Linked DNA regions of Homo sapiens. The protein of the gene in region 2 interacts with the protein of the main gene of each other region in a pairwise test. Each region holds a gene or a part of one and is shown on either strand. Other genes may lie near its edges. The genes, in order: NRBP1, TSC22D4, NRBP2 and MYLIP.

Evidence for each region.
Region 1: the proteins of TSC22D4 (region 2) and NRBP1 interact in binary tests that used the Homo sapiens proteins (3 or more experiments, as listed by UniProt).
Region 3: the proteins of TSC22D4 (region 2) and NRBP2 interact in binary tests that used the Homo sapiens proteins (3 or more experiments, as listed by UniProt).
Region 4: the proteins of TSC22D4 (region 2) and MYLIP interact in binary tests that used the Homo sapiens proteins (3 or more experiments, as listed by UniProt).

Annotation. Positions count from the first base shown.
Region 1 is NC_000002.12:27,431,622-27,438,642, forward strand, and holds part of NRBP1 (nuclear receptor-binding protein), read left to right. Parts: intron 1-1,627; exon of another isoform or gene 1,628-1,632; 5' UTR 1,633-1,652; coding exon 1,653-1,862; intron 1,863-2,051; coding exon 2,052-2,174; intron 2,175-2,367; coding exon 2,368-2,469; intron 2,470-2,849; coding exon 2,850-2,939; intron 2,940-3,100; coding exon 3,101-3,141; intron 3,142-3,511; coding exon 3,512-3,606; intron 3,607-4,101; coding exon of another isoform or gene 4,102-4,125; intron 4,126-5,131; coding exon 5,132-5,215; intron 5,216-5,425; coding exon 5,426-5,484; intron 5,485-5,640; coding exon 5,641-5,739; intron 5,740-7,021. UniProt on the Homo sapiens protein: Required for embryonic development. Plays a role in intestinal epithelial cell fate and proliferation, thereby involved in the architectural development of the intestine potentially via the regulation of Wnt-responsive genes.
Region 2 is NC_000007.14:100,469,200-100,476,220, forward strand, and holds part of TSC22D4 (TSC22 domain family protein 4), read right to left. Parts: intron 5,242-7,021; coding exon 5,075-5,241; intron 1-5,074. Other genes in the region: TSC22D4-C7ORF61 (uncharacterized protein LOC122198330), read right to left, coding at 5,075-5,241.
Region 3 is NC_000008.11:143,837,956-143,845,752, reverse strand, and holds the start of NRBP2 (nuclear receptor-binding protein 2), read left to right. Parts: upstream 1-4,779; 5' UTR 4,780-4,918; coding exon 4,919-5,047; intron 5,048-5,523; coding exon 5,524-5,646; intron 5,647-5,722; coding exon 5,723-5,824; intron 5,825-5,927; coding exon 5,928-6,017; intron 6,018-6,203; coding exon 6,204-6,244; intron 6,245-6,344; coding exon 6,345-6,439; intron 6,440-6,557; coding exon 6,558-6,581; intron 6,582-6,652; coding exon 6,653-6,736; intron 6,737-6,814; coding exon 6,815-6,870; intron 6,871-6,977; coding exon 6,978-7,073; intron 7,074-7,797. UniProt on the Homo sapiens protein: May regulate apoptosis of neural progenitor cells during their differentiation.
Region 4 is NC_000006.12:16,139,066-16,146,086, reverse strand, and holds part of MYLIP (E3 ubiquitin-protein ligase MYLIP), read right to left. Parts: intron 4,532-7,021; exon of another isoform or gene 4,463-4,531; coding exon 4,277-4,462; intron 3,068-4,276; coding exon 2,870-3,067; intron 2,389-2,869; coding exon 2,224-2,388; intron 1,191-2,223; coding exon 770-1,190; intron 1-769. UniProt on the Homo sapiens protein: E3 ubiquitin-protein ligase that mediates ubiquitination and subsequent proteasomal degradation of myosin regulatory light chain (MRLC), LDLR, VLDLR and LRP8. Activity depends on E2 enzymes of the UBE2D family.

The DNA.
Region 1 (7,021 bases), on a different chromosome or scaffold from region 2:
ACTGCCAGTCATGTGCCCCAAGGGTAGCCTCACCATGGACTAGTGGGCTTGTTCTGTGTAGAGAAGGGATGGATAGTGAATGCCAAGGTTAGTTCTAGCTGGATAAATTAGCCAAGGGTTTCAGCTGGATAAGTTGGCTGAGGGTGCTACAGGTCTAGCCTTAAGGCTGTCTCACTGAAACATTTTGGAGTCTGGAGTCATCTGTTCTGAATAGCGCCCACATAGTTTATATTTTTTTATTTTTTGAGACAGAGTCTCACTCTGTTGCCCAAGCTGGAGTGCAGTGGCACGATCTCAGCTCACTGCAACCTCTGCCTCCCGGGTTCAAGTGATTCTCCTGCCTCAGCCTCCTGAGTAGCTGGGACTACAGGTGCGTGCCACCACACCCAGCTAATTTTTTTATTTTTAGTAGAGACAGGGTTTTGCCATGTTGGTCAGGCTGGTCTCGAACTCCTGACCTCAGGTAATCCACCTACCTCGGCCTCCCAAAGTGTTGGGATTAAAGGCGTGAGCCACTGTGCCCGTCCACACATAGCTTAATTCTTGAGCACAGTAAAAATAGGGTGTACTTGGGGATTCAAAGGGAAGCCTATTGGATGAGTATTTGCCAAGAAGGAATGGAGCACCTGATTTTGCTGGTGATTTGAACCTTACTCTAAGTGGGATTAGACTGCCATAAATCTTGTGTTTGTCATTCCTGGGAGGGTCATCTTCAACTAAGATAGCTCCCCTTTTCTAGACTAGAGTTAGGAGAATAGTTAATGTTTCAGTATTTAGGACTGATTCTGATTTTGGATTTAAAGGAAACAAAGGTGGTGTGTGTTTTCTATTTTTAATTTTTAAAAGTTTTGTGTAGAGACTGGGGTCTTTTTATGTTGTCCAGGCTGGTCTCAAATGCCTGGCCTGTTTTATTTTCTTTTGAATTTGCAGATAAGTATTAGGATTATTAAATCTTTTTTTTTGTTTGTTTGTTTTTTGTTGAGACAGGGTCTCCCTCTGTTGCCTAGCCAATGGCATGATCATAGCTCACTGCAGCCTCAAACTCCTGGGCAATCAAGTGATTCTCCCATCAGCCTCTCGGGTAGCTGGGACTATAGCTGTGTACCACCTTGCCCTGCTAATTTTTAAATTTTTTTGTAAAGATGGGGTCTCACTTTGTTGCCCAGGCTGGTCTCAAACACCTGGCCTCAAATGAACCTCTTGCCTCGGCTTCTCAAAGTGCTGGGATTACAGAGGTGAGCCACTGTGCTCAGCTGGATTACTAAATTTTTTTTTGAGATGGGGTCTTGCTCTGTCACCCAGGCTGGAGTGCAGTGGCGTGATCTCAGCTCACTGCAACCTCCACCTCCCTGGTTCAAAAAAATTCTCCTGCCTTAGTCTCCTGAGTAGCTAGGACTACAGGCACGCGTCACCACACCCAGCTAATTTTGTATTTTTAGTAGAGATGGGGTTTCACCATGTTGATCAGGCTGGTCTTGAACTCCTGACCTCAGGTGATCTGCCCACCTCAGCCTCCCAAAGTGCTGGGATTACAGGCATGAGCCACCACGTCCAGCCTGGATTACTAAATCTTTACAGATGTATCCTGACTTTCTCTGCCTTTTCCCTCTGTATTTGCCCCAACCAGTGCAGGCCTGAGTGTTCCTTCCAGCATGTCGGAGGGGGAGTCCCAGACAGTACTTAGCAGTGGCTCAGACCCAAAGGTAGAATCCTCATCTTCAGCTCCTGGCCTGACATCAGTGTCACCTCCTGTGACCTCCACAACCTCAGCTGCTTCCCCAGAGGAAGAAGAAGAAAGTGAAGATGAGTCTGAGATTTTGGAAGAGTCGCCCTGTGGGCGCTGGCAGAAGAGGCGAGAAGAGGTAAGGTTATGGTACAGTTACTCTTGGGTGAGTGAATTCTGGAAAGGTGAGAACTGGAAGAGCAAAGTCTTAAAAGAGGCCAACCAAACTTCAATAGGTTGGGGGCTAGGAGGAGATGATCATATGGAGTGTTAAAATGGAGGATTTGTGAGATAAGTTTAATTCTCTTTCATATGAATTTCTTCTCAGGTGAATCAACGGAATGTACCAGGTATTGACAGTGCATACCTGGCCATGGATACAGAGGAAGGTGTAGAGGTTGTGTGGAATGAGGTACAGTTCTCTGAACGCAAGAACTACAAGCTGCAGGAGGTAGGTGATGCTGAAAAGGTGAAGCCTGGGGAATGTTGGAACACTGATGTTAGAGAGGAATTGGTGTTGGGAAGCTGCCCGTGAGGAGAGTATGTTGGGGTTAGATCGTTTCTGGGGAGGGATAGGGAATGGCTTCTCAGGATTATTACAGTGATTTGTGACTCTGTTATTCCACTGTCTCCCTTGCTTTCAGGAAAAGGTTCGTGCTGTGTTTGATAATCTGATTCAATTGGAGCATCTTAACATTGTTAAGTTTCACAAATATTGGGCTGACATTAAAGAGAACAAGGCCAGGGTAAGAATTTTTTCCCCATATTTCCTGAACTTATTGCAAAGAGACTAGCTACATTTATTATTGTTCCTTTTACACTCAGAGATTAAAACAAGGTAGTTTTGAAACAGAACTGGAATCAGCTGCAATGGCGATAAGAGTAGGGCTTCAGTTGTCACCTATGCCTTTTGTGTGGCTATAGATTGGGCAGAAAATGAGTGAACTTTTGCTTCTTTCTTCCCATAACTTTCATTGCTTGTTTTCATTGCCCTATTTAGTCTAAGTAAGTAAAGCTAAGAACAAAAGGAGAGAAATTTTAACAAACCTTCAAATTTAAAATATGTTAACAAGGGAAGGGATCATTTCTACTATAAGGCCTTTTAGTAAGTGCTTTGCCTCCCCAGGTCATTTTTATCACAGAATACATGTCATCTGGGAGTCTGAAGCAATTTCTGAAGAAGACCAAAAAGAACCACAAGACGATGAATGAAAAGGTATAGAAGGAGAGCAGACAAAGTTTGAGGCTGGTTTTTGGGGGTGGTTTTAAAAAGGACTCTGTTAATAATGAAGCTGATCAGGAAGGGACGGAAGGAGCTAGTGGGAGAGAGTTAAGAGAGGGAATTACTGCTGACCCTTGGATCCAACTTTGTTCCAGGCATGGAAGCGTTGGTGCACACAAATCCTCTCTGCCCTAAGGTAAGTAGTACCTGGTTAGTTTCTTACCCATATTTCCTGATGTAGTTACTCCAAACAGATTTCAGGGCACTACTCTTCTGTTCTATTCTGCCTCTCCCCACTTTCTTTGAATCATATACTGTCAAGATTAGGGCCCCTACGGGTCTTTTAAAGGGTGCGTCCTAATGCCCTAACCACGACACTTATCTCCTACCTCTTTCTCCTAGTGCTTATCCAGCTATTTAAATCATCAGGCATAATGGAGATTCAGAGTGTGGGGATTATCTTTATGGTGACCAGCAGGAGACCTGGCCCTTGCTCCTCTTAACCCTTGGGTTCCCCCTGCCCTTAATTTCCCAGTGGCCCCTCTAACAGCCCAGTGCCCCCACAGCTACCTGCACTCCTGTGACCCCCCCATCATCCATGGGAACCTGACCTGTGACACCATCTTCATCCAGCACAACGGACTCATCAAGATTGGCTCTGGTGAGGGGAGGGAGAGGTTCTGGGCAGGGGAGCCTCGGGAATTTGGGAACCATGGGGGTAAGATGAAAGGAATGGGGGATAACAGAGCAAAATTCTGAGGTGTGGGCTGGTGAGAAGAGAAAGGACCTTGCTAGGAGTAATTAATAGGAGAGGCCAGTTAATTAGTGGAGAGGGGGTAGGATATATAATCTTACACCTTTTTGAAGGGAAAATTGGGGTTAATACAGAGATACTGATAAGAGGCTGGGAAAGGGCAAGAGATAGGTTTGAGGTTTGATTTGAGTCCTGGGGCCAGACCCTGCCAGAGGAGGTTCCAGGCTGTTCCTGCTGTGAGTGCTTTCGTTTGCTGTGTATTGTATGCAGTGTACAACATTTCTGTGTGCTGTGTCTGTGTGGTATTTGTGTGTCCATTTGTCTGGGGCTTGGCTGCTCCATCGCTCACAACTTTTCTCTGTTTTCCTCCCTCCCGCTTACGGGCTGCTCTGTTCCCAACAGTCTTTCATAGGATTTTTGCTAATGGTGAGAGCTCCCTCTGCCCCACTTGGGGCTCTGTTTGTGCTCCCTCTGCTCCCTTGGCGGCTGCCCAGTGCATGCAGTCGTGGGAGCAAACCCTCTTCCCCTATCTTCCCTGCCTAATTATGCCTGCTTAGCTTCTGCCCTGCCAGCCCTCCGCCTGCTTGCCCCTTCATAACCTGCTTGTTTCCTGTGGATTCTGCCTGGCTGGCCACTTACCTCCTGGATTCATGTTCTCCCTCATCATCAGGCTAGTTCCCAGATCATACTGTGCTCCCAGATTCTCTGTGACTTGTAGTCATTGTTTATGATCTGAGTGAGTCCAAATTGGGCCTGGTCCTGGTTCCTCGTTCAGCTCTGTGGCAGACAGTGTTGAGGAATAAGGGGGTAGAACAGGAGTCTAAAATGTTTTGGTGGATTAAAAGTGGAACAGATTCAAGGGTATTAGCTCAATTCTGAGCTGTTTTGAGTTTCACTCAGCAAAGGTGGGTAAGAAGGAGGCTACCTCCTGAGCTGTATGTTAATACTTCTTATCCTTATTTATCCAAGTTCCTGAGGTCTCCAATTGTCCCAGATTAGGAAGGGCTGCCTGTGTTTTTATGTTATTTGCAGGGTGGATGAAAAAACTAAAACCAAATATTTTCATGTGAGCAGGGATTAGAGGTACCTGGGATTTAGGGAAGGTGAACGCAGTACAAGTGAAAATTTTTCCTTAAACTTCATTGCTTCTAGACCAGCCTGAAGCCCCTGTGTATCTGTTAATTTAGTCTGGTGCTTTTGTTGCTCCTGATTTAGGGACATTAGATGAGAAGCAGTAGGCCTAAGAAAGGGGAGGTAGGTGGCATCCATGTGTGGTCTGTAGTTCAGGACAGGAAAGGGAATATGTTTGTGCCTGTTGAGGGTCATCAGAAAGGAGACTTCAGGAGAGAATTTGGCTTTTGGGGCCTCTCTCTGGAGTGAGACTATTCTTCATTGATGATGGTCAGATTGTGGGTGTCTCCCCTACTCCCAGTGGCTCCTGACACTATCAACAATCATGTGAAGACTTGTCGAGAAGAGCAGAAGAATCTACACTTCTTTGCACCAGAGTATGGAGGTGAGCCTTCCTGCTTTCTCTGCCCTGTCCTCATCCCCCTGCTTTTGCACCTTATAACTTGAGGTACAGAGGCAATATAACTGAAACTTCTAGGCCTTCTCTACCAGCATACAAAATATTTTTCTTTTCTTTTTTTTTTTTCCTAAGGCATTCCTGCCAACCCTAGCCCCCAATCCTCTGATTAACCAAAGCCTTCTCTGTTTTCCCTAGAAGTCACTAATGTGACAACAGCAGTGGACATCTACTCCTTTGGCATGTGTGCACTGGAGGTGAGGGGACTGGAGGGGAGGGGGGAAAGGGGTCAGATGAGAAGATGGAATTGGGAATGGAGGGAAGACAAGTAAGGCGCTGGCTTGGAGGGAGTGATTGTGGGAGCACTGAAGTTCTTAGGTGTCTACTTTTTTTTTTATTCTTCCTCACTGAAGATGGCAGTGCTGGAGATTCAGGGCAATGGAGAGTCCTCATATGTGCCACAGGAAGCCATCAGCAGTGCCATCCAGCTTCTAGAAGACCCATTACAGAGGGTAAGGATCTTCAGGATCACTCCCTCCTCAACTGACCTTCAAATGTCTTCTGGTTTTTCTTCCTTTGTACCCACTGGGTATATGCTCCTAAGAGCTAGGGAACATAACAGAAAGGACACGAAAAATCTATAAACATTTTCTTAGGAGGTGCCTACCATGTTTTTGCATAGAAACACACAGGTAAGGGGGTTAAGATGGATGATGCTGGGGTTAAAAGTTGTGTGTTGGAAGCCGGGCATGGTGGCTCACGCCTGTAATCCCAGCACTTTGGGAGGCCGAGGCGGGCGGATCACGAGGTCAGGGGATCGAGACCATCCTGGCTAACATGGTGAAACCCTGTCTCTACTAAAAATACAAAAAAAATTAGCCAGGCTTGGTGGCGGGAGCCTGTAGTCCCAGCTACTCAGGAGGCTGAGGCAGGAGAATGGCATGAACCCGGGAGGCAAAGCTTGCAGTGAGCTGAGATCGCGCCACTGCACTCCAGCCTGGGCGACACAGGTAGACTCCGTCTCAGAAAAAAAGAAAAAAAAAAAAGTTGTGTGTTGGCTGGGTGCAGTGGCTCACACCTGTAATCCCAGCACTTTGAGAGGCTGAGGCGGGTGGATCACTTGAGGTCAGGAGTTTGAGACCAGCCTGGCCAACATGGTGAAACCCTGTCTCTACTAAAAATACAAAAATTAGCTGGGCATGGTGGTGTGTGCCTGTAGTCTCACCTACTCGGGAGGCTGAGGCAAGCTTGAACCCGGGAGGCGGAGATTGCAGTGAGCTGAGATTGGGCCACTGCACTCCAGCTGGGGCAAGAGAGCGAGACTGTCTCAAAAAAAAAAAAAAAGTATGTTAATTTGAATGTGTCTACATGGAGGTAAATTAATTTGATGGTTACTTCAGGCCATTGCTGTATACTCTCAGACAGCCATTTTTATATTTTTAAGCACATCAGTCAATTTAAATTAAACCAGTTGTTTGGGATTTTATATTTATACAGTTTTAGTTAGGGACGGTGGCCTGAAATAATGAGCTAAGATTTAAAAGACATAAGGTTATGAATCAGTTGATAGACTATAGTAAGCAGAGCCTGGGCAGGAAGGTCCAAACAAGAACAGTTTGTAACTCATTAGATAAGTATAGTAGGGAACAGGAGAGAAAAGAAGACTAGTGGGAAGTCAGGAGGATAGTGTGGAGTAAGTTTCTACTTCAACATTGAGGTGGAGTATTCAAGTGAAAGATTAGGTATGTGACCTTGTTAGCCTTCAAGGTTAAAAGCAGGAAAGCAGGTTAATTG
Region 2 (7,021 bases):
CTGGACAACAAGAGCAAAACTCTGTCTTAAAAAAAAAAAAAAAAAAATCGCCTATGGGCCTGGGACCTGGGTCTGGGGTCTCAGAGGAAGCGAGGGTTTGAGGAGAGGAAGGGAAGTGAGCTTGGAGAAGGGACACTGGGAAGAGGAGCAACAGGGCTTGGAAGAGGGCTGGGAGTCTGGGGTGACAGGGTCTGGCTGCAGTCTGGGAAGTGGCCACCAGAGGGCGACTCAGGCCTGGCTCAACAGCCCCCAGGGCCGGGCTCCAGGCTGGCTCCACGACGTTGGGCTCCTGGTCCCAGAACCTGGCTCTCCCTCAAGCCCCACTCTCAGGCCCCACCTGCGCAGGCCCTTGTGCTGACCTCATCCTCCAAGGCTCCCTCTCCCACCCCTCAGGCCCCAGGCTCTTGCCCTGAGGCTCCCGACCCACCCTTGCACCCCTGCACTCTGGCGCTGTGGCGGGATCCCCAGTCCTGCCCTCCAGCCCCCAGCTGGGCCCCCCTTGGAGCAGGGGCCTCAAGGCGCTGCAGCCCACATCCCTGGACTCCCTTGTAAGCCCTCCCTCCTGGCTGTCAGCTCAGACTTGCTTTCCTGCAGGGGGATCAGCACTCAATTCAAGGTGACCCCTGGATAAGGTCCTGCAGCCAGGAAGGGAGCACAAGGGAGCTGGGAATTTTCCATTTCTCATCCCAGCTCTGGGTGCAGAAGGCGCTGACAGGTGGAGCAACTAAGGAGGTGACTAGGCCTGAGCGAGCAGGATGGGGTGGGTGGGGGAAGGGCATCTGGGACTCTTGGGGTGGTGGGAGAGGAGAAGTTGAAGGGTGGAGGTGGGTCTGCCAGCAGGAGGGTCAAAGTAATTTTCGAGCTATTTCAATCAGCAACACCTGGGTGGAGATGGAGCCACCACAGAAAGCCCAATACTGCCACCACCCCATTAAACACTCACAGAGACCAAAGGGGTTGGATACACAGGGATAGGAACATGGGCCCTGCTGGGCAGAGACTCAGGGGTAAAGATGTCAAGTAAGGTGTTCATTCTCACCAGAGATAAAGGAATAATACAGCAATAAACGTTTGTTAGCCGACAGGTGACTGTCTTCTGTTTGTCTAGCGCCTGGGAGTTTTTGCTCTTGTTGCCCAGGCTGGAGTGCAATGGCGGGATTTTCCCTCATTGGAACCTCCACCTCTGGGTTCAAGTGATTCTCCTGCCTCAGCCTCCAGAGTAGCTGAGATTACAGGCATGAGCCACCATGCCCAGCTAATTTTTGTATTTTTGCCGGGGAGCCTCCGGCAAAATGGGGTTTCACCATGTTGGCCAGGCTGGTCTTGAACTCCTGACCTCATGATCCACCCACCTCAGCCTCCCATCTCAGTCCTGGGATTACAGGTGTGAGTCACTGTGCCAGGCCTCTATTGGAACATTCTAACACACACTTCAAGGGACCAGGGCTCTGGCAATGCAGGCCCTTCCCTTTAGGACCCCAAAGCGAGGGGTTGTGGGCACTGTGCTAGAATTCTTTGACAGGGTCCGGGGGAGGAAAGTAGGGGCTGCTGAGACAGGATCGACCTCCACCACAAGCCCAAAAGCAAGTTTGTATGGATTAGAAAATGCCCCCTTCTTCGAGATCCTTAATGCCATCTTCTGGAAAACTGTCGTGACTTCAAGCATTGACTGTGATTTCAAATATGAGCGGCACCCCCTGGAGTTAGTTGTGCAGTGTGTGACATGCACAGTGGGAGACTTAGCCCTGCAGGACTCTTGGTCCTGGGGCGGGGACAGCCCTAGAAGCTGGTCTTCCTCTTTGAGGGTCAAATAAAACGGCCTCAACATGAAGATGAGATAAAAAGCAGGACACCTGGGAGAAATGGGGAGCCTGGGATCTTGGGGACAGGGGCCAGCCCTGCACACTCTCCAGTGGGTTCAGGGGATCCCCCAGGGCCTAGGTCTGGGGCCAAGAAAGTGTCATCCAGCTGCCCTGTCTCTATGCTGTCCCGGATCTGTGGTGTCTTTGGGGCGGGGCTGGGGAGGTCGGGGAGGGGGAAGGGGGGCTGGCTCCCTGCCCTGCTTGGGAGAGCTGTACCTGACTGTCCTAGAGAGAAAGGATATTGTAGACCATTGCCGCCACCTCTTTGCCTGGGACACAGGCATCCCAGTAGGACAGTGGAGAAGGTGTGGCTTTGGAGTTGGACCCAGGCTCCAGCTGCAGTCCAGCCACTTAAACTAGCTGGGTGGCCCTTGGGCAAGTTTCTAAAACCCTCCTGGCCGGGTGAGGTGGCTCATGCTTGTAATCCCAGCACTTTGGGAGGTCGAGGTGGGTGGATCACCTGAGGTCAGGAGTTTGAGATCAGCCTGGCCAACATGGTGAAACCCCGTTTCTACTAAAAATACAAAAATTAGCCGGGCATGGTGGCATGCACCTGTAGTCCCAGCTACTGGGGAGGCTGAGCCAGGAGAATCGCTTAAACCTGGGAGGCAGAGGTTGCAGTGAGCCAAGATCGTGCCACTGCATTCCAGCTTGGGAAACAGAGCAAGACTCCATCTAAAAAAGAAAAAAACAAAAACAAAACAAAAAAAAACCTCCTTCTCTGAGTCTCAGATACTTCATCTGGCAAGTGGGAGAATGGAACTGCTTTTTAGGATTAGAAGGGAGAAGGCAGTACCGGACCCAAGGGAGGCACTGGATAAATAAATGTACCTTTTCTTTCCCAAGTCCCTGGGATCCATTCTGTATAATGCCTGGATCCCCCAGGCCGGTCACTGCCCCCACCCCCATTCCTTCCATCCACTTCTTCACACCTTAATTACCTCCTGCCTGCCGGGAGGGGACAAGGATTTCCAGCCCTGGGGCACGTGAGCATTCTAGATTCACCTGCACCCTCTGTTCGCCCATCCCCAGATTCAGGGACTGGTCAGGCGTCCCCAACTCCCTCCCTGTGATCCAGGCACTGAACATCTCAGCCCACCTTCCCTCTTAAGAGAGAGGTCCCAGGCCACTGGCATCCTGTCCTGCCAGCCCTGTGCACACCAGACAGGAGAGGTGGGGCCTACATGTCCCATTCCTAGGGGGCAGGGGGTGGCCCAACCCAAACCCGCTGGCCTGGCAGGGTGGGGCTTGAGGGGCTGGGCTGGGACAGATCCCCAAGAGCCTTGGAGCACAGCAGGGTGAAGTGGAGGCTGGGAACCGGACCGGTCAGATTGGGGTGTGCAGGGAGGGGGTGGGATGGAGGGAGGCAGGGAGGGAGGGTACAGGGGAAAGACGGAGGCCTCAGGAGGTTGAATCCTCTAAGACAGAGACAGCAGGAGGCTGGGCTGTGAACTCAACAGGGGTGGGGGAGGGACGGGGAGTCCTCTTGCCGGGGAACCTCCCAAGTGGGAGAGGGAGAGGGCGGGAAACGCTGAGAATAGCAGTGATGGCGGCAGGTGACTCTCCCAGCCCTGGCCGACCTCACACCTCGCACATTCCTGAGAGTGGGAATGGGGCGTGCAGAAGCCACCCAGTCCTGCCCAGCCCCGCCCAGCCCCACCCAGCACTGGCACTCTTGCCCTCCGTCCCACCAGCTCCTGGCCACCTCCTTTGCCAGGTCCCTATCCTCCCTGAGGCCGCAGGACCCTATCAGTGGTGGGCTTGAGTCCCTGATCCCAGCGAGTGGCCCCTGATCTGGGGAGGACAGGAAGGAGCGACTCCCATCTGGAATTGGTCCCTCAGGCACCCACTCACCCACTCTCGAAGCCCCACCCCCAATTTCCTTCCAAGCAGGAAGTCCCTCCCCTTGAAAACCTCCCACGGGAAGTCCCACTTCTCCCTCCAAAAGAAAAGCGGTGACTCCCCAGCCCTTCTGCCCGGTTCCTATCAGTCCCCGGGGAGAAGCAGGCAGCCTGGCTATCTCTGACTCACGATTCTGGGCCTCCCTTTTCAGCTTGCTGGCTTTCTTAGGAATGGTGACACCTGGCCCTGAAAACCCACCCAACAGAGCACTGTCCCCTAAAGGGAGAACCCCAGAAAGTCGCTCTCTGCAGTGCTGCCCCTGCCCCTTTGCCGTTCCTAGCTCTGATTCTGTTCCTAGCTGGCCCATCTTAGGGACTTGCTTTCTCGGTTCTAGAAATCTTAGGATCCTAAAGTAGACCCTGTGGGCTATCAGGATGTCACGCTCCACAGGTGCTGTTAGGGAGTCCCAGTCCTTTGTTAGGAGAGAAAGAGGGAGATGGAACTGGGAGGAAACTGATTTCCATTCTTTTTCAGTTTTTTTTGTTGTTTTTTTTTTGAGGCGGAGTCTCGCTCTGTCACCCACGCTGGAGTGCAGTGGTGCGATCTCGGCTCACTGCACCCTCTGCCTCCTGGGTTCAAGTGATTCTCCTGCCTCAGCCTCCTGAGTAGCTGGGATTACAGGCACGTACCACCACGCCTGGCTAATTTTTGTATTTTTAGTACAGACAGGGTTTCACCGTGTTGGCAAGGCTGGCCTCGAACTCCTGACCTCAGGTGATCTGCCCGCTTCAGCCTCCTAAAGTGCTGGGATTACAGGCATGAGCCACCATGCCCAGCCTACTTCCTTTATGTATATATATATATATTTTTTTTTTCTTTCTTTCTTTTTCTTTTTAGAGATGAGGTCTCGCTACATTGCCAGGGCTTGGTCTTGAACTCCTGGCCTCAAGCAATTTTCCTGCCTGGGCCTCCCAAAGCACTATGAGTACAGGCGGGAGCCACTGTGCCCCGGCCTGATTTGCTATTCTGTCTAGAGCATGCATTTGCCAGTGGGTTCCTGGGTTGGCCAGATGATCTCTAAATCTGCAAGAGCTCTGGAATCTGACAACAATGACTCCCTTCAGACTCTAAAAAAGTCTGTGACCTGACAGTTCTGAGCCAGGGAGTCCCACCCAGCCCTCTCCACAGAGAGGGAGTGGGTCCGAAATCAACTGTGTGCAGTGGCTATGCCCAGGCCAGGTTTCTCTAAGAGGTCCTCTCCAAGTTCAACCTGGGGGAAGGATGCCTACCAGGCACTTTCTTACAGCTACCCCGGGTGCTGGGCGGGGAACCTGAACCCCACGCCCCACCACCCCACGAAGCCCACCTACCTATCATCGTCGCTGTCTAGGTGACCACTGATGGCCAACATGGAGTGGGCCAGGCTGAACTTCTGAGCTGCTACTGCTCCGAAGGGGTCTGGAGATTTGTGAACCAGGCTGGCATCGTGGGTGAAGTAGAGGGCTGGGGAGCTGGGGCGAGAGTCAAGTGGGGGCACCTGGAGGCGGAGAGGTAGGAACCATCACATGAAAAGAGAAAAGAAAGGAACCAGCTGCCTTAAAACTTGCCTATTAGCCTTCCTCCCTCTCCACCTCCCCACTCTCTTTCGAGGACCCAGGAGTCCTGTCCCCGCAGTCCTTCCCTCCTCCAGCTCTGGAGAAGGCATTAGGCAGGTACTAGAAGCAAGAAGTGGGTCAACCTAAGGAATGGGAGGAGTGGTGTATAGGACATTAGAGAGAGTCTCCCAAGTGGGAGGAGGGGGTGACTGACGGAGGAACCCAGAATAGACTCCAATGCCCCAGCTCCCACTGGGCCGGGACCCCTAATCAGAGGCTACGCAGCGTGTCTGCCTTCTTTTATGTTTTATTTTTATTTTTTTGAGACAGTCTCACTCTGTCACCCAGGCTGGAGTGAAGTGGCACAATCATGGCTCACTGCAGCCTTGAATTCCTGAGCTTAAGCGATCCTCCAGCCTCAGCCACCCGAGTAGCTGGGACTACAGGCATGCACCATCATAACTGGCTAATTTTTTATTTTTGGTTAACACAGGGTCTCAAGATGTTGTCCCGGCTGGTCTCAAACTCCTGGGCTCAAGTGATCCTCCTGCCTCAGCCTCCCAAAGTGCTGGAAGAATGAGCCACCACTCCCAGCCTGTGCCTTTACTGGAGTCTCGCTCTGTCGCCCATGCTGGAGTGCAGTGACGTGATCTTGGCTCACTGTAACCTATGCCTTCCAGGTTAAACTGATTCTCCTGCCTCAGCCTCCTGAGTAGCCGGGACTACCGGCACCTGCCATCACACCTGGCTAATTTTTTTATTTTTAGTAGAGACGACAGGGTTTCACCATGTTGGCCAGGCTGGTCTTGAACTCCTGACCTCAAGTGATCTGCCCGCCTCGGCCTCCCAAAATGCTGGGATTACAGGCGTGAACCACTGCACCCAGGCTGCCTTCTTAAAATGACTCCAATGTCACCTCTTAGAGAGGCATTTCCCCATCATTCACTGGTTTACTGAACTATTTCATTTTTTTATAGCACCTAACATTATCTGAAATTAAAGTATTTATTGTGTCTCTCCCCTGCTAGAAGGTCAGTTTGCTCAGTAGCTATTTGTAGAATGAATGGATCCTCAGAAACTGCTCCTCCATCCCCTCACCCACCCCCCACTCTCGCTTCCCCTCTCAAACTTCTCGGACTCAGGTGGAATTCTGCTCCTGCGCTCTGCCCTAGGGTTGGGGGGGGAGCTGGTTGTGGAGCTGGGGGGAGGCGGAGCCTGGGCGTGGACCTGCATAGCCCAACAGGCTCTGGGGGCAGCAGCAAAAAGGGCGGGGGCGACAGGAACATGACAAGACGCCTCTGTGAGGCCCCGGGAGGCCCCAGCTTCTCAGAAAAGCCAAGAACAGAGAGTCCAGGGTGGTTAAGGGACAGAGCAGAGGAAGGGGGCCCAGGTGGTGTCCCCTGGCCCTTCTCCACCACTCCCCTCTGTTAAGAGGGAGAAGAGGCATGAGGGGACGTGGAAGGGAGACAGACTTTTGGGCAAGGAAATAGCAAAACAGATGCGTGCAAACAGAAGACCGTCAGGAGGTGGGGGAAGGCTGGGGAGTAGGGGGCACTGAGAGAGAGAGGCAGGGTCTGTGGCCCCAAGAGAAGCTCAGGCCAGGCTTAAGGACAGAGAGCAGGGAAGCTGGAGGCCAAGGGGGTTTGCTTTGGAAGAGTCTGGGGACAGGACAGGAAGAGAAACAGCATCTTCTCCCCTGGGGTGGGTGCTGAATGCAAGAGT
Region 3 (7,797 bases), on a different chromosome or scaffold from region 2:
ACAGGAGGGAGAGGCTTGGGAAGACTCTGAGGTGACAACCATGGAGCCCCAGTAGATCTGCAAGGTGGAAGAGGAGGAGGCAGTGAGCAGCGAACCTGCAGTTGGCATCACAAGGCATCGCACAGGGGGCCAGGCACAGCGGCTCACGCCTGCACTCCCAGCTACTCAGGAGGCTGACGCAGGAGGATCCCTGGAGCCCAGCAGTTCAAGATGAGCTTGGGCAATATAGCAAGACTGGCTCTACAAAAAGTTTTAAAAAATAGCTGGGTGCAGTGGCATGTGCCTATAGTCCCAGTTATTCAGGAGGCTGAGGTGGGAGGATCCCTTGAGCCCAGGAATTTGAGGCTGCCGTGAGCTGTGATTACACCACTGCACTCCAGGTTAACAGAGTGAGACCCTGTCTCTGAAAAAAATAAAAAATAAAAAAAAAGCCAATTCACAGATTAGGCTCAGAGGGCAGGTGGATGGCTCAATGGCTAAGAGCAGCCCTAGAGAACTTCCAATAAATTGAAATGGCCTGGCAGCATCAAGGGGTGGAGAAGCTCAGAGGCCGAGCAGAAGGGAGGGTACGCCCCCGCCCTGGGGCACAGCCTGAGTGAGGCCAGGGAGGGTGTGCCGCAGCGGCCACCACTTCTGTGCGTGGGCAGGCAGTAGGACGACCCACTCTGTGCATGGGAATAAATGCTGGGACGCATCCCTGCACGCGAACACATAGCTGTTGTCACGTTACTGTTCTTACCACGGGGGTCATGCTGGAGCAGCACCAGAGATGGAGGAGTAGCGTAAAACAGCACAAACAGATTCGCTCACTGTGCTGGAGGCTGGAAGTGCAAAATCAAGGTATCGGTAGGGCTGATGCTTCCGGAGGCTCCGAGGGAGAATCCATCCCAGGACTCTCTCCTCACCACTCATGGCCCTGGCAGTCCCAAGTAGGGTCCAGCCCCACAGGGACGGTGGGTCTCTCCCCGTGTGCAGAGACGAGAGAGTGTAGAAATAAAGACACAAGACAGAGATAAAAGAAAAGGCAGCTGGGCCCGGGGGACCACTACCACCAAGTCGCGGAGACCGGTAGTGGCCCCGAATGCCAGGCTGCACTGATATTTATTGGATACAAGACAAAGGGGCAGGATAAGGAGAGTGAGCCATCTCCAATGATAGGTAAGGCCACGTGGGTCATGTGTCCACTGGACAGGGGGCCCTTCCCTGCCTGGCAGCCGAGGCAGAGAGAGAGAGGAGACAGAGAGAAAGACAGCCTACGCCATTATTTCTGCATATCAGAGACTTTTAGTACTTTCACTAATTTGCTACTGCTATCTAGAAGGCAGAGCCAGGTGTACAGGATGGAACATGAAGGCGGACTAGGAGTGTGACCGCTGAAGCACAGCATCACAGGGAGACGGTTAGGCCTCCGGATAACTGCAGGCGAGCCTGACTAATGTCAGGCCCTCCACAAGAGGTGGAGGAGTAGAGTCTTCTTTAAACTCCACCGGGGCAAGGGAGACTCCCTTTCCCGGTCTGCTAAGTAGCAGGTGTTTTTCCTTGACACTGCGCCTACCGCTAGACCAAGGTCCACTTGGCAACAGGCATCTTCCCAGACGCTGGCGTTACCGCTAGACCAAGGAGCCCTCTGGTGGCCCTGTCTGGGCATAACAGAGGGCTCGCACTCTTGTCTTCTGGTTACTCCTCACTATGTCCCCTTAGCTCCTATCTCTGTATGGCCTGGTTTTTCCTAGGCTATGATTATAGAGTGAGGATTATTATAATATTGGAATAAAGAGTAATTGCTACAAACTAATGATTAATGATATTCATATATAATCATATCTAAGATCTATATCAGTACAACTATTCTTATTTTATATATTTTATTATACTGGAACAGCTCGTGTCCTCGAGTCCCAGGCACGCCTTGACCTGTGGGTACATCCCTCCAACACTGGCCTCCATGTTCATGTGACTGTCTACCTTATTTCTCTGCACCCCAAGTATCCCTTTTCTTTCTCTGATAAGGACATCAAACATTGGATTTAGGGCCCACCCCAGCATCTCAAGATCCTAAACTTATTTACATCTGCAAAGACCATTTTTTTTTTTTCAAATAAGGCTGTGCTCCTAGGTACTGGGGATCAGGATGTAGACTTTTGGGGGACACTATGTGACCTACCACAGAACATGTGTGTCTGGTTATGGGGGCGGAGAAAGGGGAGGAAATTCATTGAGATTCTTCTGCTCAAGGCTTACCTCCTTAGGGGCTTCTCTGGACCACACCCGCCAAAACGCACCCCTGCCCACCCACAGATCCATTCAACAAGTGTTTGCTGAGGGCCTGCTGTGTGCCGGGTACCGTCCTCGCACCAGAGAAAGAGCAGGGACAACGAGCAGACACTCCTGCCCTGCGGGAGCTCGAATCGCAACAGGGACACAGACAGTGAAGAAGAGAGATGAGAAAAACCCAGATGCAAGTCAGGTGGGGTGAATACTCCGGGAAAAGTCAAGTCAAGCAGGCGAAAGGGTGTGGGGACTGTGATGTCAGGATTCGTGGTCAGGACAGGCCTCTCAGGAAGTGACCTCAGAGGATGTTTGGGAAGGGCGTTCCGGGCAAAGGTATAACCAGGGCAGAGACCCTGAGGGGAAGTGCCTGTCATGTCCGATGGCACAGGGCCGTGTACTTGGGGTGGGCTCAGCTGAAGAAGGCAGCTGACGTGAGGTAGGGTAATGGGACCAATTACTGGGCCTTCATGTTTAGGCCCTCATACCAAGTGAGAAGGGACCACTGGGGGGGCTCCCCAAAACCACCCTCAAGTTCAATGGTTCACTAGAAGGACTCACAGAACTCGGAAAGGGTACTATTTATTACAGCAATGGATGCGTTAAAATCAGCAGTGGCAAGGACTCACAGAACAGAACCCAGGACAGACCAGCACGGGTCTGCAGGTGTCCCCACCCACTGCAGGCATGGGGACAGTGCTCAACCTCCCAGCACTGAGGTGTGACAATGAGCACAGCATGTCAGCAGCCAGGGAAGCCCTCCGTACCTCAGTGTCCAGGGTTTTTATTGGGTTGGTCACACAGGCATGGCTGACCTCCCAGGTGGCTGACTTTGGCCTCCAGCCCCTGCAGAGGTCAGGCTGATGCCACATGGCCCAAGGTCCCCCCGTAGACCATATTGTTAGCACAGACCAGGGGTGTCCAATCTGTGGGCTTTCCTGGCACACATTGGAAGAATTGTCCTGGGCAATACCCTTAAATAAAATACACTTAACACTAACAACAGCTGATGAGCTTTAAAAAAAATCTCAATAAGAAAGTTTATGAATTTGTGTTGGGCCATATTCAAAGCTGTCCTTGGCCGAATGCACCCTCTGGGCTGCGGGTTGGACAAGCTTAGCATAGAATCTGGTGTGGCCGAGGTAAACACAGACATTCAAATCAGGCAGAACATTCCAAGGGCTTAGAGGGTGTCTCCCAGGAGCTGGTCAGGGCCAGTTTCAGGGTGGAGGATTTGAACACCCCAAACCTTTACTGCAGAGGGCCTCAGCAGGATCACCTGGCATTGGTGGAAACCACACACAAGGTGCCTGGTGACCAAGGCTGGTCAGAAAAGAGAGACCACAGGGGACGCAGCAGGGCCAGATGCACCTCTGCCAAAGAAAGAAAGAGGCGTCCCAAAGGGCCAGTGCATGGAGCTGCGCGGAGGGGAGGAGCGGAGTTCCAATTTGGGCTCCAGAGAGAGAAGGTAAAGGATGAGGACCCGCCGTGAAGGAGGGAGGAGACCACAGGAAGGCCGTGGGGGCTGTGGGCTGAAGGGGGTTTTAGGTGAGAATCGGGGACAGCCCCGGTGGTCGGCGTGGCTGGAGGGTGTGCTTAGAGCGGCCTCCGGAGGGAGAGGTCGTGTGAGCCGGGTGGGCTCCCCCCTCATGGTTCCACTGTCCCATGGGAGCCAGCCGCGGAAAGGAAATGCGCGTTTGAGGAGAAAAGAGAAAATCGCCATCCTGGAAAGTGAGAAGATGGGCTTGTGGGCGGGAGGAGGCACTGGTGGGCGGGCCAGGGAGAGATTCGTGGTCACCGATCAAAGTCAGCCTGGGTCAGCCTGCTGGTGGGCCTTTCCCCCGCCCTCGGTGCCCCTTCGACCTGTCCCTTGGGGGTCGGCCGGGGAATGAGTGCGTGGCCAGGAGAGCGGGTCCCGCTTTCGAGCCCGCGGGGTCTTCTGCAGCTGGAGGGTGCCGTGGGCTTGGGGGCCCCCAGATGCCCCGGGTCTTCCCCCAGATCCTAGGGGAGCAACCGCGAGAGAAGTGGGCGCTCCGGGCTCCAGGTGTCCGCAGGGCGGGGCCTCCGAGGGGGCGGGGATTTGGGGGCGGTTCCTCTGCGCGGGGCGGGGCCTCATAGGGGCGGGGCTTCGAGGAGGTGAGGCGGGGCCTGGGGTGGGGCTTCGCGGAGGACCCTGGGAACGGGCGGGGGCGGGGACTAAAACGGGGCGGGGATTCGCGGGGGTGGGGCGGGTCCTGGGGCGGGGCTTCGCGAAGGAGGCTTGGAGGACGAGGAGGGGACAGGGCCTGGGGAGGGGCTTCGCGGAGCAGGCCTGGGAGACGAGGAGGAAACAGGGACTGGGGCGGGGCTTCGCGGGGCGGGGCCTCCGGGGGGGCGGGGCCTGGGCGCGGCCCGGGCTCGGCAGCTCTCGGGGAAGCTCTGCTCTGGCTCCGGCAGGCACAGGCGGCTCGGGAGGTGCGCGCCGGCTCCGCCCCCGGGCCCCGCCCGTCCGCCGCGCGCCCGCGCCTCCCAATTCCCAGAGCCGGGGCTGGGGCTCTAGGCTGCCGCGGCGGCTCTAGGCTGGGCTGCTGGGCGCGAGGCCAGGGCGGGCCGGGAGAGGCTGCGCCGGCGGCGGATCGCGCAGAGGGCGGTGGCCTGGGCTGGCCGAACCATGGCGGCCCCGGAGCCGGCGCCGAGGCGGGCCCGGGAACGGGAGCGGGAGCGGGAGGACGAGAGCGAGGACGAGAGCGACATCCTGGAGGAAAGCCCGTGTGGTCGCTGGCAAAAGCGACGGGAGCAGGTGGGCGCGGGGGTTGGGGCACGGGGTGACACCGCCCTCCCAGAGCGGGAGGGGCCTGGAGGCTGCGCGGGGCGTGGGGGCGCTGGGAGAGCGCGGCGGCTGGAAACCTCTCCGCGGCCCCTCGCGGCCCGCGAATCAGCCACCCCTGGACCCCTTTGGCCTGGCGCTCGCCCTGGGACTCCCTGAGGGCCAGTCTCCTCCCAGGACCACCTCCCCATGCCTCTGGACTCAGCCGCTAGCTTCCTGGGGATCCCCCTCGACCCCCTGAAACCTGCTCCAAATCCCCTTAGCCCAGCCCTTGGATAGGAGCCCTTGGCTCCTGGGGGCAGCTACCCTCCAAGCCCCACCTTCCCGCAGAGTGGCTCAGGGCCTGCAGCCCACGCTTGGGCCCACTGGAAAGGTGTGGACAGGGACCAAATCCTCACCCACAACCCTGACACACACCAGGGCACACATAACCCTTTATTCACCCCCAGGTAAACCAAGGGAACATGCCAGGGCTTCAGAGCACCTTCCTAGCCATGGACACGGAGGAGGGGGTAGAGGTGGTGTGGAACGAGCTCCACTTCGGAGACAGGAAGGCCTTCGCGGCGCACGAGGTGAGACCGCTGCCCCCTCCTCATCCTGCTTGGGTGACCACCTGCTGACCACCCAGCGACCACCCTCCCTCCCCAGGAGAAGATCCAGACCGTGTTCGAGCAGCTGGTGCTGGTGGACCACCCGAACATCGTGAAGTTGCACAAGTACTGGCTGGATACCTCTGAGGCCTGCGCGAGGGTGAGCACGGGCAAGGCCCCGGGCAGGCAGAGACCACAGCTAGGTGGGGCGGGCATGGGGACGAACCCGCAGCTGGTGGAAATCCTGAGCTCGCACCGTGCAGGTCATCTTCATCACAGAGTACGTGTCATCAGGCAGCCTCAAGCAATTCCTCAAAAAGACCAAGAAGAACCACAAGGCCATGAACGCCCGGGTATGGGGAGCGGGCTGGGGCAGCCACGGGGACAGGACGGGGTTGGGGCAGCCTCGGGGACTGGGATGGTGAGGGGGTGCCCGGCGGCCTCGGACAGGGGCTGGGCGAGGATGCGGGGCGGGCTCCGCAGGCCCAGCCGCCTCTCCTGCGCCCACCCGACCGACGGAGTCGTGCGTCCGCCGCCAGGCCTGGAAGCGCTGGTGCACGCAGATCCTGTCTGCGCTCAGGTGAGGGCCTGGGCTGGCCTGGGCGCGGCGCCACCGAGCCCCCATCTCTCCAGAGCCTCCTGACCGGCTCCTCCTACTCTCCCCTCCCCAACGTCTGCAGCTTCCTGCACGCCTGCAGCCCCCCAATCATCCACGGGAACCTGACCAGCGACACCATCTTCATTCAGCACAACGGCCTCATCAAGATCGGCTCCGGTGCTGGCGGGGCAGGGCTGGGTGGGGGAACGGGGCAGGGGAAGGTGCCTGGAGCCAAGGGCAGAGGAGTTCTGATGCCCCAGCAGCTAACTCCACTCTTTCTCCCGCCCCTTGGCAGTGTGGCACCGAATCTTCTCCAATGGTAAGTGCGGACTTTGGGGGGACGGGGTCCTGGAGAGGTCCCCGCCCGCTCAGCTCTGCGCCCTCCCACAGCACTTCCAGATGATCTCCGAAGCCCCATCCGCGCTGAGCGAGAGGAACTTCGGAACCTGCACTTCTTCCCCCCAGAGTATGGAGGTGAGTGGTGCTGGGTCCGGGTGCCCCGTGCCTACCCTGCGCTTCTCTCCTACGTGTCCTGTGCTCTCTTCTGTTCAGAGGTGGCCGATGGGACCGCTGTGGACATCTTCTCCTTTGGGATGTGTGCGCTGGAGGTACTGCCCCCGCCCTCCACCTTGTGCTCTGCCCTCCTCCTAACTGTGCCCTGCCTGGCTCACCTGTGTGGTCCCTTCCCCATGCCTGACCTGGCTCTGTGCCCCAGATGGCTGTACTGGAAATCCAGACCAATGGGGACACCCGGGTCACAGAGGAGGCCATTGCTCGCGCCAGGCACTCGCTGAGTGACCCCAACATGCGGGTAAGCAGCTTGCCCTGCCCCTCCCCAGCTGGCTCACCGTGCTCAGCTAGGGCTAGCAAGGTGCTCCAGGCAGACCTGGGAGAACATCACAGTTTGTGCAGTTGAGGGGTATACCAGCTGACTGCACCCCTCCCAAAGAGGACCTCAGTGGGAGCACATACTGGTTCCAGGCCTGAAGGCCCTAAGGGGTCAGCACATTCTAAGGACAAGAAGGCAAGAGAGACCCTCCCTCTGTGGCTGCCATCACCATGCCCGTTTTATAAAGAAACCAAGGTTCAGAGGAGATGAGTCCTTTGCCCAAGGCTTTAGAGTGAGTGGTGGAGCCAACATCTGCACCTGGGTCTGCTTCACTCCAAGTCCTTGACTTTAAGCTTCCAGGAGGTGATGAGGCTCCAGCTTGTGGGGGGACATGGTGGGTGCCAAGCAGGCAAAAAGAGGTATGGGATGGAAGCTGCATCCACAGCCCCCTCTGCTCGGAGTCTAGACTTAACTCCATGGCCTCAGGAGATGGGGGTGCCTGGTCGGGGCTGGTGGCGAGCTGGAGCCGGGCTGGGCACGGATGTGGACAGAGTGGGGACCCATCAAGGTCGTCTCCAGTGTTGGGCCCGAGCTGAGCCGATCAAAAGGCCATGGGTAGGAGGCTTGCAGGTGTGACTTTAGGATCATGGCTTCTCCCCACGATTTTTTGGGGGTCGAGGGAAGCAGAGCATGGTGCTCCAATCCC
Region 4 (7,021 bases), on a different chromosome or scaffold from region 2:
GACTGCTTCTGGGGAAAGGACACAGGGGTCATTTGGTCTTATTAGCTCTGAAATTAGCAGCTTCTGAAGGACTAAGTATTATCTAGAACCAGTTTTACATAAAACCACAGTGACATTTGGCAAACACATCTGAGAAATAAAAACAAATTGAAAAAACTTGTAAGAGGAAATTTAAAATTCTTCTTCATGCAAGAAAGGAAGAAAACTATATGTGAGTTCTCTTTTTCGTGTTAATATTAAAATTAGTTTGACTTGCTAATAAATAACAGCCAACCCATATGCCCTTGAGGCATTTGCAATCATAAAAGGAAATTAATCACCAATATCACAGAGTCAACAACCCATCCATGGATAATTGAGAAGTATTCTTTCCCAAATATCTTAAGTAATAAAGACCATCCTCCTAAGTGTCAGAAAAAGGGAGGCAACTTGAAATAGAGGAAGCAGCCCTGGGCCAGGCCTCAGGAGGCCTGGATTCTTGTCCTCAGGTAAGCCGCTAACTAGATATGTTACCCAGGAATCTCAGCCTCATTTTCAGAACTTGAAAACACTGCATAATTTGGAGTAATTATGTTGTTGAAAATAGTATGCTAATCTAAAATGTTTCTAAAGGGCAATGCCTTTTAGGTCACCAAATACAAAGACCCTTTCCGGGTGAAGATGGGCATTCCCCGTCTGTGCATTAGCGAGCCAGTACCTGGCTCCTACTCCCCGTTAAGAGGAGGGATAGGTGAGGCTGCAGGCAAAAGTGGGCAGCTGACTCCCCTACCTGTAGCTGGGCGGCGCAGCTCTCACAGCACACAGTGTGGCCACAGGGACAGAAGGTGGAGTTGATCTCCTCCTCGCAGCACACCATGCACAGCATGGCTTCCTTCAGCTTGCGTAGCTTCTCCTGCAGCACCCGGGTCTGCTGGCAGCTGAGGCCCTCGCAGCTGCTGCAGTTCATGCTGCTTTCTGAGGACTTCAGAGGCGAGTGTGAAGGGCTCTGGTTGTTTCTTGAAACGAGGTCCACAACGCCAGCATTGTACAGAGCCCTCCTGGCATGGTCATACACCTCCTTTGATGTTCTTTTAATATCAAAGACATATTTCTTGCCAAGGTTAATGTTTTCATTCAGAAACAGAGATGCCAAGTGGCCCTTCAAGTCACGGCTATACTGCATCATCACGGCGCTGGTCACTGTGTCACACCTGCAAGGCAAGATTGAACATCTACTTTAACACCAAAGAGCCTGGCAGCACCCTTATTCGCTGTTGTCAATAAGAACAGAAATGTCAGCAGATGTTTCATAGTCTCGTCTGCATGTATGAAAGTAAGTCCTTCCAGTTTTACGTCTGGTAAATATTCTCAGTGATTACACCTCTGTTTCTCTAACATCTCCTGACATTATGGCTTCCGTAAAGCAGTAAATACAGAGGGCAGTGAGCACGTACCTCCTCCCCAGGACAGACGCTACTGAGTGAAGTTGCTTATGGAAGAAAAAGGGCATCTGCCTGAAGTCTTGGCTTTTAGGTTAGAAATGTCTAAAAATTTCCCATCCTGTTTCACAATTTGTGTATCTATTTTAAAATAAAAAAGTTTAAAGTTGTCTACGACTTAAATTTCTTAGCTTTAATTGTCCAAATACGTGAGTCCAATCACAACTTGGCTTTAAAGTACCCTCTGAAATGAGGGAATCAATATTGCTATTAAAAAATCCTTCCATACACAGTGACGACTCAGGATAGCAGCTCTGCCAGAAAGAAAAGATGATCTGTGCTATCCTTCTCCTGAGCAGTGGAGCAGGCCCAGTCCCTCAGGGTTACCTTTAGGGTAATCAAACTTGGCTTTGAAGCTGAGTCCTAGACTAAGTAAATAATTATCCTCCCAGTTCCCTCATCTTTAACATTAGGGTAATAATAACCCCTTAGGGTTGTTGTATTGATTAAATAGGCATAGAAATCTCCTAACACACTTTGTGTCTAGATTAATGGCATAAGAGAATACGGTAGGAGGTAAGCAGAGAATGTGTTTGTGCAGCTCACACACATGCACCTTCTGTGGGTAAAACAAGACTACATTAATAAGGACTCCACTGCTACTACGGAAACAAAATGTTCAGAATTTCTTAAATTCTGTACTAGACTCATTGACACAACAATCCAAGGAACCGTAGAAACCTGGTTGTCACCTAAAAACCTGAGAGCTGTGGTGCTGAGGTGACCAAGCACACGAGATACGTGCCTGTAGAATGCGTGCGTCTCTGTTATCGCTCGGTAGAGCCCGCTGGCCGCCCTGGTGCTGATCATTTTAAACAAGAGCACGATGCTGTTCCCAGATTCCTTGGTGACCGTCAAATATACATTCTTTCCTGACTGGGTGGCCATCTGCACCACAGGATAAGCTATCCTAAGAGACAGGAAGAGAAAAGAAAGCAGATCTAGAAGGAGTGATTCTTCACCATGTGTGTGCCTTTGTGGGATCCCCATTTGCTCATGACCTAGCAGAAAAATCAGACGCTTCCTCTGGGGTTATCACATCACCATAATGCTGCCTTATTGTAAAGATACAGTGAAAAGCAGTTGGGCATATGTGGAGGGAAGTATGGGAGCAAGTGCTGGGTGTGCGCACATGCATGTCTAGAGCTGAAAACAAGTTTTTTATGGCAGTGAATGGGTTATTTGGAAAACGTTAACTCTGCCACATTGTATACCTTGAATAACATTTAAAATGGTTATTTAGGCCTGAATAAAATTAATGTACATACCAAAATGAAATCTTTCATTCCTAAGAGCTGACTGTCGAGTAAATCCCTTCCTATTTTCTATTACATTGACAGCTACAGATGTATACACATGCTTAGGTCAAAAAAAGTTAAGTCTTGGCTTACCTATTAATTGGGCTAAAGTCATCTTTACAAATTGAGATTCCTTCAGGTCCAACCCCAATGAGCAGTTTCTGCCCTTCGCTATCCCGCACAGAATGCCATTCTATGCCATAGTTTTCCATTGCCGACACAATCTGCAAAACTTGGTATTCAGCTGAAGCCTGGCTGGTCCCCTCCAACTCCTTATGTTTTGCAACAATGCTGGAGGACACCAAGAGGACAGAGAATTAAGTATACAGATATTAGCTTTAGAGATAAACCTATGTAGTCTTCACGAGTGAAATATACTAACACTGATGAATCACAACAACTTAAAACTTATGTATTACTGATGTTTCATGTATTTAGCGAACTTACTATAAAAAACGTCTAAGACACTGGGATCTCAACTATTAAATACTTGGTAAAAACACTTTGGGGATGCTGGATGGGTGATGAATTGGAAGAATTATGGAAAGTCTCTAAAAATATACATAAGTCAAATTTACATATTGGAAAGTCTCATGCATTTGTCCACATATAGTTTATAAGTATAAAGTTGACCCCTGAGGCCCCTGTGGCCAGGGAAGGAGGTAGGCCAACAAACCACAGGAGTCAACCTGGCATGGAGGCCACCCTCAGTCGAGCCTTCAGATGAGACAGAGTTCTACCTGCAGCTTGACTACAGTCTCATGAGCCAGAGGACCCAGCCAAGACATGGCCAGATTCCTGACCTACAGAACTGTGAGACAATTTTTGTTGTTTTATGTCACTAAGTTTTGGGGTAACTTGTTATGCAGGAATAGATAACTAAAATGCCTATGTTAGATCTCCTGGTTTAATTCTTGCTGGGATGAAGAAAACACCAATATACATAATAGATTTTTTATTTTAGGAGATTTGTACTTAAAGGCACAGATTTAAAAAATTCCCATTTTATATAGCATTTCATATTGTGTTTACATATTTTTCAAATAAAAGGCTAACAAATTTTTTGAAAATATTTGGTTAAATTGGGCAATGGCCCAGTCTTAACTTCACAAATTATGTGTATGTACCACAGATTCATCTTCTTTTGGAAATGCTTATACATTTGATAGCTCTATGAATATATGCAGTAGCCCTGATGCTGCCATGTTCATGCTCTGGTGTCTCTGGTCTTGCTGCTCCCTCTGTCCTGATGGCCATTCTTTCTGTCCCCTTGCTTGGATACCCTTTGGTCTGTATCACATGCAAATCCTCTATTCCTCTGGTACAGTATTTGACATAACATGTATATTATGTATGACTTCTTAAGTGCCTCGAACATCAGAGAGCTCAAAAATGTACATAAAACTGCATATTATGTGTGATTAGTTTACCTTCCAACCTTAGTTTCATCCTGTTTAAGCCTATTCTAGTTGTAAACAATACTATATTCAACAGCCTCACCTGTTCAAGGTGGCAGAGGAGAGCTCCTTGGCACAGAGCTCCTCATAGTTATACTTGGCAGTGTTCTGGTTGTAGTCTCCAAACTTGGTCTGGGCCAGGAGGGCACTGAGTTCCACTGCCTGCTCTGGGGAACACAAGAGGTGGCCTGCCAAGAGGGCCTCCTTGATGTGCAAGAAAAAGATATGCCTGCAAAGCAAGGTGAGAGTGAGGTTATGCTTGGGGATAACCTGACATCAATCTCAGCCTACTTAGCAATTTCACAGTCACTTTTAAGGAAAGCAATTTTAAAAGTCACACTGAAAATGCTTAACATTAAAGAACTTCAAAAAAAAATCATCAGTATTAAGGCAAAATCAAAATAAGAACTGCGTTTCTCTGGAATAAAAGTTGTGACCCAAACAAGATAAACTTATTTAACACAAGTTCGGTAACATTAAGGTTACAAAACATAAAATAATTACACATAAGTTTCTGCATTATAGTGTTTTAAAAGAAATTATTTTAATCAGAAAAATTGTATCTTGACATGGATTCTGATAGAATCTTAAGGAACTCTATACATAAAGACAAAATTCTCACCTTTATTCAAATGATACCCCAATCTCTAGTCTCAGTGCCAGCTTCTGTCCTAAGAATCACATGAAAAATGTCCAATCTCCTATAGGCTTCACCACCTGGATGTTCTTCGGTACCTCAATTTTGGCTCATTCAAAACCAAACTCCATATATTCTTTCCCAAGCCCTTTTTCTCCGAATGGAGACCACGGACTGACTTTGGACTCTTTGTCCTATTTCACTTGACTTTCTTCTCTCTGAAAACTATTTAAATCCAGTTCTATCCTCCCATTTGTACCTCCTCAATACTACTTGCAGGAAGAATTTACACTATTCTCTGCGCTGCTCTCCTCCTCCAGACTCCATGCAGGCAGCCTACCTTCCATGCTGCTTGTTTCTAGTATAAACTTGTCATTTCTCTGCTCAAAATCCTTCAAAGGATCTGTACGGCTTGCCAAGGGAGCACGTTGTTAACGTGGAGCTGAGGAGTCTCCGCCATCTGGCCCCAGCTTTCCAGCCACGTCTCCTGTCATTCCCTGCAGCTGCTATGCCCCAGGATAGGGAACGATTCCTCTCCCTGGGAAATCTAGGAAGCATGTTCATGCTCTGGTGTCTCTGGTCTTGCTGCTCCCTCTGTCCTGAGGGCCATTCTTTCTGTCGCCTTGCTTGGATACCCTTTGGTCTGTATCACATGCAAATCCTCTATTCCTCTGGTACAGTATTTGACATAACATGTATATTATGTATGACTTCTTAAGTGCCTCGAACATCAGAGAGCTCCAAAAATGTACATAAAACTGCATATTATGTGTGATTAGTTTACCTTCCAACCTTAGTTTCATCCTGTTTAAGCCCATCCTAGTTGTATACAATACTATATTCTACATTTACTAAAAGGTTATGTCACACTTAAAAACTCCTGTAAAATTCAGATACTGGTCACACTGCCCAAAACTCTGAAGAGCACCTAAACTGCTGTAGACAGATTGGCCTCAGTTATAACAAGTGTCCCTGGCAAATGTGAAGTTTTAACCTTCCTTCGATGACTTGTCATAACCTCTCAAACAAGGCTAATTGCCACATTATTCGTCCCATTAACAAATGAATTGTAACTTTGGCCAGGTGCGATGTCCTCAGCACTGTTTCTGTTTAATAATATATCTGTGTCTGACATTCCAGGTAGAGGAACATGAGCAAGGTAAGAATCGACTAAGGAGGAGGCAGTGAGGCTACAAATCTAAGGAGGTGCTATACTGAGAGTCTACAATGTCTGGCTGACAAGAGCCATTAATCTTATTTTCACTAAGAAGTATTTAAATTCAATGTTTTGTGCATTCTATAATGATAAAGAAATATTTAAAATGATGAAACTCTGCCAAATACTGCAGTTTTTTCTTTTTTTCAAAGCCCGTGTAAAGAAATCATAGTAAGAATGTGTAATAGCCTCAAAGAAGATAAAGATGGTTTTTATTAACCCAAACATCTGCTAATCTTTAAAGTATTTCTGACATACTGCTAAACTGAGAAAGGAGCCCCCACTGGGGCAAAGGAATCACCATGAAAATAATTTGCTGTAAAATAGCTATCTGAGGACTGAGATCCAGCATTCTCAGCAAGCCGTGGTTTACTACACTGTTGCAGGCCTCAAAAGGCTTCTTAGATGACCATTTGATAAACTTCATCTTGGTGAATGTACCCATCTCTGTATTCGACTGGGGTGGAGGTGTGCTGTTAGGAAACTAAAATCTGCATCTATGCTTTCGTTAAAGAAGAAATTACGCTCTGAAAGACTTGAAGAATATTGCCACAAACGAAGTCTTCTTAGTTTAATTACTGCTTATGTAAAAGTGGCCTTTTTTTTTTTTTTTGAGATGGAGTCTTGCTCTGTCGCCCAGGCTGGAGTGCTATGGCACGATCTGGGCTCACTGCAAGCTCCGCCTCCTGGGTTCAAGCGATTCTCCTGCCTCGGCCTCCCGATAGCTACATTAGACCATGCCTGTCTAATTTTTGTATTTTTATTAGAGACGGGGTTTCACCGTGTTAGCCAGGATGGTCTCAATCTCCTGACCTCATGATCTGCCTGCCTCGGCCTCCCAAAGTGCTGGGATTACAGGCAAAAGTGGCTTTTAACTTATTTTTCAGGTGTAAAGTTAGAGACTAGTTCCTGCTTTATTAGATAGTAAGAAGAGT